Linked DNA regions of Homo sapiens. The protein of the gene in region 2 interacts with the protein of the main gene of each other region in a pairwise test. Each region holds a gene or a part of one and is shown on either strand. Other genes may lie near its edges.

Evidence for each region.
Region 1: the proteins of PTGES3 (region 2) and URI1 interact in binary tests that used the Homo sapiens proteins (3 or more experiments, as listed by UniProt).
Region 3: the proteins of PTGES3 (region 2) and CAV3 interact in a two-hybrid assay, tested with the Homo sapiens proteins (one large-scale study listed by BioGRID and IntAct).

Annotation. Positions count from the first base shown.
Region 1 is NC_000019.10:30,004,622-30,008,276, reverse strand, and holds part of URI1 (unconventional prefoldin RPB5 interactor 1), read right to left. Parts: intron 2,917-3,655; coding exon 2,825-2,916; intron 2,627-2,824; coding exon 2,569-2,626; intron 808-2,568; coding exon 639-807; intron 1-638. UniProt on the Homo sapiens protein: Involved in gene transcription regulation. Acts as a transcriptional repressor in concert with the corepressor UXT to regulate androgen receptor (AR) transcription.
Region 2 is NC_000012.12:56,664,175-56,667,829, forward strand, and holds part of PTGES3 (prostaglandin E synthase 3), read right to left. Parts: intron 2,093-3,655; coding exon 2,030-2,092; coding exon of another isoform or gene 1,982-2,029; exon of another isoform or gene 633-1,981; intron 627-632; coding exon 602-626; intron 325-601; coding exon 305-324; 3' UTR 1-304. UniProt on the Homo sapiens protein: Cytosolic prostaglandin synthase that catalyzes the oxidoreduction of prostaglandin endoperoxide H2 (PGH2) to prostaglandin E2 (PGE2).
Region 3 is NC_000003.12:8,743,802-8,747,413, reverse strand, and holds the end of CAV3 (caveolin-3), read right to left. Parts: intron 1,889-3,612; coding exon 1,547-1,888; 3' UTR 656-1,546; downstream 1-655. UniProt on the Homo sapiens protein: May act as a scaffolding protein within caveolar membranes. Interacts directly with G-protein alpha subunits and can functionally regulate their activity. May also regulate voltage-gated potassium channels.

The DNA.
Region 1 (3,655 bases), on a different chromosome or scaffold from region 2:
ATTGCATATGGTACATCATTTAAGCAAAATAATATAGAACTTCTCGAGTAGCAGATTTCATTTAGCATTTTAACAATTCTAAGTGTGTGCTAATGTGTATTTCAAACAGCAATTTCGTAAAGTTTCTCATACATATAGCTATCTGACCAGATTACAAATTACCTGCTCCAAAGTTTATAAAAGGAAAGCAAGAATAAACATTTTACTGTATCAAATTTAAATTCAAAGTGTATTTTTGTTTTTCACAACACATTCAAAGATAGAGCACTATCCTGGGTGTGGCATAAAAATACTTCATTTAAAATTTAACATTATATATATTAAATCCATGATTATTAAAAGTCAACTATCTGGTATAATTAATTATATAAAATAGGCCATAATAAAAAATGAAGATGTTGATCTTAAGTATTTAAGTACATGTACATGCATGGGAATATGCACAAACACACAATCCTATAAGAAAATATTCCAGAGAATTAATGTTCATCTTGAGGTGAAAGGATTATTGATAATATATTATGCTTCCCTGCATTTTCTTCAATGAACACATATTATTTTATTAATGAAGAAAAAGATTAATGAGGAAATGTGTATAGAAACAAATTATCTTGGAAAGATAATTTGTCATCAAGTACCTATCAAGTTCACCCAGCAATTCTTCCTGTCTCTCTAGTTCTTCAAGTCGAGCCCACAGTTCTTTATCAGCTAGCAAATCCTTGGATTTCACATCATTTGCAATATCTGCTTCAAAAATATCTGAAGTTTTTGGTTTGGAATGCGGTTTATGAGCAATTCGGTGTTTTGCTATTTAGAAAAAGGAAAAGACGTGGCTGTTAATAGCCAACATAAAAAAGGCACAAACCCAGACTTAATGAGACTTTCTTTTGGGGCAAGGGAAATATTGAAACAGAGGGGTCACAATTTTTAAGCCAAACAGAACTCCAAGGATGAATGTCTCTTACAGCCTTGCTACTCAAAGTGTGGTCCATGGATCAACAGCACTGGCGTCCTTGGGGAACACTTCAGAAGTGTAAGCTCTAAGGACACCCTAGACCCACTGAATCAGAATCTGTATTTCAACAAGAGCCCCAGAGAACCTGCATACACATTCAAGGTTGTGAGAAGAGCTTCAAAAATGCATAAGAAATGGCCACAATGCACCCTGGTTATAAGGCGAAATGCAACACATAAATGATAAATTTCCATTTACCATCCTTACTCAAGGAAATCTAGTTACTACAGTAACGTGCAAAAGCCTTGTGACAGGATACTTTAAACTCCAGGGCACTGCCAAGGAATGAGTACCCTACAAGGAAACAACGGCGGCTCATCTCTGTAAAGTTCTATTATCATTTTACATATGAACATCTCTACTTTTTAAACTGCTTCATTTGTAATCTTCATGTGAGGAAAAAAGATGGGTCAAATCTGAACTCAGAGGTATCTGCTTTTCATTTTAAAAAATAGATTATTTTTTAATAAAGCAAATTAAGGCTTTATTTGCTTTATTAAAGCAAAGTAATGGGAAAGTAATGGGAAGAAGTCTAAGATGCGTCCTGTTATGAGATATGGCACTACCAGATGACCTCGAGTCCATCATATATTCAAATTTGCTGCATTGTTGCATACATCTGAAAATATCAAATTATGTTTCACAGCCTTATTCTCTGTAACTATTATTGATAAGACAGTAGTTAACAATTTTTATTTCAGACCTGTAGCGCTCATAATTTGTCACTGGTCACCACAAACAAAAATCTTGTCTTTCTGTTCAACTTTAATATACATATCCTTTATTTCACCTTCTAAAGCCACTTCCTGTTACTTGTGATGTGGCTTCTTTCAACCAGTAAGTTATCTTAAGAGTTCATCACCAAAATATGAGTGCTGAAAGTCAAAACGAATGCTCAGTACATTTGTTTAAGACACTGTACAGTCTTCTACAGTAGCAAATAATAAGCCATCTGTAATACTTTTTACAATTTCACTACCGTTAACACTTTACAACTGACGAAGGAACCATTGGCTTTACAGAAGTAAACCCAAACACATAAGCCAGCCTTGGCAAAAGAAATCTACTGGGTGGAGATGGGAACAACCTGCGCAGGGAAAGCCACTGCAGGCACCATAAGAGGAATGGCTGAAATACACCCACATTCATTCATTCTTCCAAAAACAGCTTACAAAGCTGCAGTTTTAAAAGAAGAAAAACTAGCAAAAGATATCTTAGGACTTCACCATGGTCAGAGAACAAATTAGGAGCAGATCCATGTCTAGAATATACATCTTCTGAGTTTTAGAGGTTTGGAGCACTGGAGAACTTTGGGAGAAAAAAGCCATGTAATCCCACCACTAAAACAGACCAGTCAGGAATCACATTTTTAACCAAAAGTTATTTATCCATTAATGTTTCACATAAAAAAAAATCAATGAGTAGAAAAATGTTGGCATCCTATGAATTTAAAAGTGTATTCTAAATCCCAAATATCTCACAGAAAGCCCACTGAAAATCAACAAAAATCAAAATATCTAAACAGCTACACATAAAACAATCTTACTGCTTACCTTTAAATTCGAAGTCACATTTAATTTCTTCTCGTATGTCAACAATATCACCTGCAGCCTGGTTTTTAAACAAAAAAAAAGCGTATTAACAACACAAATCTCCAGCATACTAAAATTATCCAAAGAGCAACTATTCAACCTAAGATGTCTGAAAGCATTTTAAACTTCAATTAATTTGTTCCTTGGCTGTAAGATAGCTTCATATTTCTTTGAAAATATTTTCTAAAAATATAGAAGACTAAAAACAAATACTCACATCGCTCATTTTCTGCAAATCTTCTGTGAATTCAACTCTGGATTCAAAATTTTTCATCACTTTTTTTAAGTCATCTATTGTTTTTCTTACATCTGAAACAATGAACACAACCATTATGTAAAGCATGGCATATATACGACCTGTAGGAATATTTTAACTGTAGTCCTATCACACTACAAGTATGATTTAACAGTAATGCTTTTCAAAAATCTTACACTATTTTCCTTTTAAATGGACTTTTAATAAGTTATACTGTGTATTTTTGTGCTATATATATAGCACATTACTTTGTTCGTAATAAAATGTCTAACATATTTTCTCTCTATTACAGAGTACAGAACTAGATTGTAGATGCTGCCTGGTGCTACCAGGTTTCTATAGGATAAATATCTAGTTGGATCATCACATAAAATGCAGTATTTCATAACAGTTTTGTTGCACAGGTAATTTTTGTCCAGCTGGATAATGCATAGATAACATAGATTAAGACAAGTTATTCTGTTCCTGAACAGAAAATATTCCTAAATTAGATGACTGAAAATACAACACATTTTTTACGGTATATAATCAACCATTTCCAAGTTAAACTGCATAACAACACAACACACAGCCTTTCAACATCTCCTAAATACCACCCTCTATTAACCTATTTGAGGAAAAATTTTAATTTGAGAATAGACACAAACATTTCTCTACCCAATACTGGACAAATGCAACAAGTAATTCATGTTTCTGTAATCAGAGTAGAAATCTCTGCTAAGCAGTAAATGGCACCATCTAAAAAATACATGGGGTTTCTAACTATAATTATATGCTGAACAATATCCTACT
Region 2 (3,655 bases):
GTGAGATGTTTTTATTTATCGCAACTGCTGCATTAATTGCCTAGGACCTCAACAGCTTCATGAAAGTCTGGGAAATGTTCATGCATAAGGTTATTGCCTTAGCTGACTTAAAATTGCCCCATACAATGGTACATATCAACCCTTAGTGAAGCCTTTTAAAAAACAAACAGGTTGAAAAATGGGTTAAAGTAGGCAAATACAGCATATCTGCCTTTAGAGCTATCAACTCAGGAATTCTCTCAATTATGAAATCTTGCAGAGAAGTTATTTTTCTTTCTCAAAATCCAGGTGATGACAATATTCCTTACTCCAGATCTGGCATTTCTGAAAGAATTTTTAAAAATATTAGTATATAGTACAAGTGAATAATCTACCAATTTTACTGTCTTAAAGGAAAAGCAACCAAAAATCGAAATACATAGTTGCCCAATGAATTAATAGGTTGTCTTGCTATCAAGTTATTCACATTTCTGCTTTGGTTATTTATTCAAGGTCATAAAGAAAAAATTACTTTACTTCCAAAGAAGTTAACATCTCTATTTTGAGTTTGTTTTTTGATGCAAAGTATCACTGTATAAACATACTTTTTATATACACTTACTTTCATCATCACTGTCTTGTGAATCCTGAAAGAGGGAAAATAAAGTTACCGAGCTGATCAAATATTCGTTTGCTAACTGAACAGTTTACCTAAAAAAGTTCAAGTGCTATATTTTTGACTAAAGTAGCACAGGTAGGTAGTCATATCAAGCCTAGAAATTTAGTCATTGGACTTGACTAGGTTTACCTAAGGTGAATGGATGTACAGCAGAGGATTTATCTACCTATAAAAAATGATGTGTGCCTTTTGGTGACAATTTAGCCCACCCGTTGAATCCATTCCTAAATTAACCTATCTCGGCATTCAAAGAGAAAACATGGATCAATATGAAGAAAAATGGACTGATAGAAGACAGTGAACTCTAATCCTAGCTGTTGAGTGAATATTAAGTGTTTTTCTAAATAGCATTAAATAACTTTCTGGGAGATGTTAACAGGATGCTGGGGTTGGAAAGATGTTGAGAAAAGTAGTTTAGTGTATCTTCCTCTTACAGATTTCCAATGTCCATCTTTTTTTTTTTTTTTTTTTTGGGTGGGGGGAGATGGAGTCTTGCTCTGTCACCCAGGCTACAGTGCAGTGGCGAGATCCGGCTCACTGCAACCTCTGCCTCCCGGGTTCAAGCGATTCTCCTGCCTCAGCCTCCCAAGTAGCTGGGATTACAGGCACCCGCCACCATGCCCGGCTAATTTTTGTATTTTTAGTAGAGATGGGGTTTCGCCATCTTGGCCAGGCTGGCCTGAAACTCTTGACCGCATGATCCACCCATCTCCGCCTCCCAATGTCCATCTGTTTTATCGGTCTCTGACCAATCCTGACATAAAACCTATTTAACTTACTTTCTTAGTCAAAATCATACCTATAAACTGACTCTCTTCTTTCTTTTTGAGATGGAGCCTCGCTCTGCTGCCCACACTGGAGTGCAATGGTGTGATCTTGGCTCACTGCAACCTCCGCCTCCCAGGTTCAAGCGATTCTCCCACCTCAGCTCACCAGTAGCTGGGATTACAGGCACCTGCCATCATGTCTGGCTAAGTTTTTAAGACAGGGTTTCACCATGTTGGCCAGGCTGGTCTCGAACTCCTGACCTCACGTACTCTGCCCACCTGGCCTGCTGGGATAACAGACATGAGCCACCTCGCCCGGCCTAAACTGACTGTTATAATTGAGTACGGTATTAATATATAATGTCTCTATACAATGATTCTTTGGAAATCTAATCCATTTAGGAATGGTCTACGGTACAACCAGTTCCCTAATAGATACCCCCATTCGTCAAAAATGGGCACATTTTAAAAATTGCTTTTCCCTTTTCTTTTTTTTTAGAAAATAAGAAGTAATTGTGAATCTATATAAAACCATTTGTAAATATGTTGTTTCTTACTATTTAATAGTATGAAAGTAAACAGAAAAAAGAATTTTTAGACTTACATCATCTGCTCCATCTACTTCTGGTAAATCTACATCCTCATCACCACCCATGTTGTTCATCATCTATTTGAAGTGTAAAAATTAGTTTTAAAAATGATGTTAAGTTAGGCCCTAATTATTAATGCTGTATGCTTCAGAATAAACCTTAAGTCTGCCACAGATATCAAAAAATGCAAAATGCAAATATAAGCATCTTTCCCTTCTGGAAAAGGAAGATTATAGGTAATTATACAAAATCCTAAAAACCCATATGGAAATTAAAACTAAATTTTCCCTAAAGAAAAGCAAAGCTATTCATGCAACAGGTTTGACAAACATTAAAAATTCTACTTGAGTAGTGGTTACCTCTGGTGGTTAAGGAAAAGAATGGGATTCATTTGTAGTTGCACAGCTATCTATCTTAAGTTAGGTGGAACATGTATTAAGGTATTCTTTTTTTTTTGAGACAGAGTCTAGCTTTGTCGTCCAAGCTGGAGTATGGTGGCGTGATCTCAGCTCACTGCAACCTCCGCCTCTGGGTTCACGCAATTCTCATGCCTCGGCCTCCAGGGTAGCTGGGATTACAGGCGCGTACCACCACACCCAACTAATTTTTTGTATTTTGGTACACACGGGGTTTCACCATGTTGCCCAGGCTGGTCTCGAATTCCTGGGCTGTAGTGATCCACCCACCTTGGCCTCCCAAAGTGCTGGGATTACAGGCGTGAACCACCATGCCAAGCCTTTTTTATTTTGAGATGGAGTCTTGCTCTGTTGCCCAGGTTGGAGTGCAGCAGCACAATCTCGGCTCACTGCAACTTCCGCTTCCCGGGTTCAAGGGAGTCTCCTGCCTCAGCTTCCTGAGTAGCTGGGATTACAGGCAGATGCCACCACGCCCAGTTAGTTTTTGTATCTTTGGTAGAGACAGGGTTTTACCATATTGGCCAGGCTGGTCTTGAACTCCTGGCCTCAAGTGATCCCCTTGCCTCGGCCTCCCAAAGTGCTGGGATTACAGGAGCAAGCCACTGTGCCAGGCCTGGTATTCTCATCATGGTTTTAGATATTGTGAAGAACCAAGAAATGATTTAAACTTAAACTATTATCAGATGATGAGAAACTTATTTTCTCAAGTTTAAACCATTTTTGTAATGTTTAAATTTTAGAAAAATAAAATCACATATGCATGGAAAAAAAATCAAACTTCAAAAATACATGATTACCCAGATTTTAGAATGGGAAAGGACCTTAAAAAGATAGTCAAACATACAATGGAATGTGTTCAGCCTAAAAGTATCATTCAGCCTTAAAGAAAAAAATCTGCCTTATGTGACAAAACACAATGAAGAATCTGAAGCACGTCATGCTATGTGAAATAAGCCAGTCACAGGACAAATACTGCATGATTCCACTTATATGAGATACCTAAGATTATGTAAGATACCTAAGATAGTCAGACACACAAAAATAGAGAGTAGAATGGTAGATGCCAGGAGCTGGGGGGAAGGAAAATGCAGAGTTGCTACTGTTAAATAGGTATCAAATTCCAATTACACAAAATGCATAGTTCCAGAGACCTACTACTGTACAGCATTATGCCTATAGTTAACAATACTGTATCATGCACTTAAAAGATAGCTGGGCGTGGCC
Region 3 (3,612 bases), on a different chromosome or scaffold from region 2:
TTAATGATAGAGCCAAGATGGGTATGTAGCTGTTCAACTTTTCTGTGTTTGAAATTTACATACAATGTTAGGAGAAAACCAAAATTGGGTAAAATTTTGGAGCCAAAATGCACATTAGAGATCAATTTGTGGGTGATAAAATTGAGGCAGAAAAGGCAACTAGGAGCGGAAGCAGGACTAGAACCAAGGCTGCCTGCGTCCTAGTTCCCAAGCTGTGTGTGGTCCACTTCACCACACTGCCTCCCAAGACCACTGGGCTCGTGGCCAGGCATGAATAATGTCTCCGAAAACCTGACAAGTGCTGTGGAACTTTAATTATATGAGACTTAAATGGGCGTTGCATGAAAAGAAAAAAAGAAAAAAAAAAGGTCAGATAGGATTGGGGGGATACTGGTTTAAACAGGTTTATCTACTGCAGGACATGTCAGAGCCTTTAATGTGCCAAAGTCTATTGAAAATCTCTGAGAGAAATATACAGCATTTCTGAAAGAACCGGACCACAGATGCTAACACCCATCCCCATCCTTTCTTTTTTAATGGCTAAGTTCTGGATAGCACACTCGGAAAAGACAGCCCTAAAGAAGATAAGGGCACTGTGTGTGTGTGTGTGTGTGAGAGAGAGAGAGAGTGTGAGGAGGGAGGAAGTGATACATGCTCTTTCTACTGCATTTTATTTCCATAGTGAGTCCACACACGCACAAATTAGACCTTGTTCCTTCGTCACATCTCCTGAGGGCGAAGGTACCCTCATGTCAAATGGCAGTACTGGGCATTTCAGGGGCTCGGTTAGCCAAAGGGGAGGTTCCGGGAGGCTTGAACCCAGGCCCTTCCCTCAGTGGTACCCTGGAAGGGTCACTGCCCCTGCCAGCCCAAGGGTCATTTTCCTCCATTGGTGCCCATTTTTGTGCTCAGGCAACAGGAGTCACTTAAACATGATCTTCCAAGGAACGTGTACGGTTCCAGCAAACAATAGAATCCGAAGAAGAAAAAGACTCTGTTCTTCACTTACATTTGGCCAAGTGAAGAGACAACCAACTCTCCCTGTGTCTGTTTTTCAGGGCAGTGAAGTATATTTTTGGAGCTGGTCAGGACACAAACCAATCTTACAGGCACGAACAAAATGCAGCATTCCCCAAATGCAGCCAAAACCCTTTACTGGAGCCACCTTCCTAACGCCAGTGGTCACTGGTCACTTTCCTGAGTGCGCGTGGAGAGGTTGGCCCCGGGTGGGAACCGCGTGCTGGTTTATGTTGTTACAGTACAAGTGAACGCAAAGACTTGCAGTAGCTGCCTCTTGGCAAATGATCTTCCCCCACGCCCAGGCATGGGGGCATCATGGTGGGGCTGGGGGAGAGCGAAGGGCCATTGTGCTTCTGTGGCTGGGCCGTCTTTTCTTTCTGGCTTCCCTACACCGTGTGCTCCATCATGGGGTATGGAGCAGTCCCTAAAGAGAAAGAGCTCGCCAGCAGCCCCTGTGAAGAAGTCCCCCGGGGACCAGTCTGGCCCACCACCCCCTGCCCTGCCACCGCTGTTGCCCCACCTGGCTTTAGACCTCCTTCCGCAGCACCACCTTGATGCTGCTGCAGACCTGGCCCAGGGCCGCGAAGAGTGGGTTGCAGAAGGTGCGGATGCAGAGTGAGTAGATGTGGCTGATGCACTGGATCTCGATCAGGTAGCTCTTAATGCATGGCACCACCGCCCAGATGTGGCAGAAGGAGATGCAGGCGAACAGGAAGCCCCAGAGCAGGGCCAGTGGGACGCCCAGCAGCGTGGACAACAGACGGTAGCACCAGTACTTGGAGACAGTGAAGGTGGTGTAGCTCACCTTCCACACGCCGTCAAAGCTGTAGGTGCCCACAGGCTCTGCGATCACGTCTTCAAAATCCACCTGCAGGGGTGGCAAGGGGAAGCCTCAACTCACAGAAGCCACCCGCTTCTCAAGCTTTTGGGTGTGTGCGTGCATGTGTCAGAATCCCCTAGAGGTCAGGTTAACCTTGGTGGCTGGACCCTACCTGTATTAGGCTATTCTTGCATTGCTTTAAAGACATACCTGAGGCTGGGTAATTGATAAAGAAAGGAGGTTTAATTGGCCCATGGGTCTGTGATCTGTGCAGGAATCATGGTGCTGGCATCTGCTTGGCTTCAGGTGAGGCCGCAGGGAGCTTTCAACCATGGCTAGAGAAGGGAGAGCAGGCGTCTCCCCTGGTGAGAGTGGGAGCAAGAGAGAGAGCTGGGCAGGGGGTGGAGTGCCACACTTTACAACAACCAGATCTTATGAGAACTCTCCCACTATTGTGAGGACAGCACTAAGCCACGAGGGATCTGCCTCTGTGATCCGATCACCTCCCACCCGGCCCCACCTCCAATATTGGAGATTATGTTTCACCATGAGGTTTAGAGGGGACACAGATCCAGACCATATCATCGCCCCAGGGATTCCGACTCCCCAAGTCTGGAGTGGGGCCTAAGGCTCTGTATTTCTAACAAGCTCCCTGTTGAGCCCAAGCTGCTGCTGTTCCTAGGCACCGCTGACCAACACAACACGCTCGTTCAACCCCCTCAAGGTGAGCGACTTGCTTAAAGCCAACAGTGACTTAGTGGCAGTGCTATAGTCGCAGCTCTCAAATTCTATTGTTTTATGATCTGAAGGGTGTTGGACGGTCGTATGCATCCTACAGCAATTTACTGAGCACCTGTGGATTGGATGGTGAACAGGCAGAGGTTCCTCACATCGCTTACCTAAGCTCTCTCGAGCCCTGCTATGCATGAAGCACCTTCCTAGCTGCCTACACATGGGTGATGTCACTTAGCATCACTAAGCCTCAGCTGTCTTGTCTGTAAGATGGAGTCAATGAACGTCTTCCAGTGGTATCATGAGGATGAAAGGATGGGAGGCTGTAAAATCCACTGGTCCACAGTGAAACCCTGTCTCTACTAAAAATACAAAAAAAAAAAAAAAAAAAAAAAATTAGCCGGGTATGGCAGCGGGTGTCTGTAGTCCCAGCTACTTGGGAGGCTGAGGAAGGAGAACGGCATAAACCCGGGAGGCGGGGCTTGCAGTGAGCCGAGATTGTGCCACTGCACTCCAGCCTGGGTGACAGAGCGAGACTCCATCTCAAAAAAAAAAAAAAAAAAAAATTCCACTGGTCAATTAAACAGCAGTGAACCAAATTAGCTGCTTCATGACTGGTCTCCCCATGGTTGTTACCAGTACAGCCCGCCAAGTGGGAGGTTGCAGAGCTGTTTGCTAATGCCTGAAACTGTTCTGAGATGTTTTCTTTCTAGCAGTGCTCCTGGGCCATTCAAATTAAAAGGGGGTGGATGCAGGTACAGACTAATCAGATCAACAGGAGGGGCCTGTGTGGTGGCCTGCAGGGCTGAGGCTCCAACTTCAATCTTCCTGGTTAGTTAGTCCCTTTCCCGCCTTGGTTATGGGGAGGGGATCCTCTCCTCTATTGCATCACCAATATTAAAATTACTTTCATTATAAAAAAAATGGCCATATCACAGAGAATTAACAGAATAGAAAAAAGAAAAGAGTCTTGGGTTTGTACTTCTCTATTACTAAAGATATGATTGTTTTGGTGCATTTCTTTCCAGTACAATATTTTC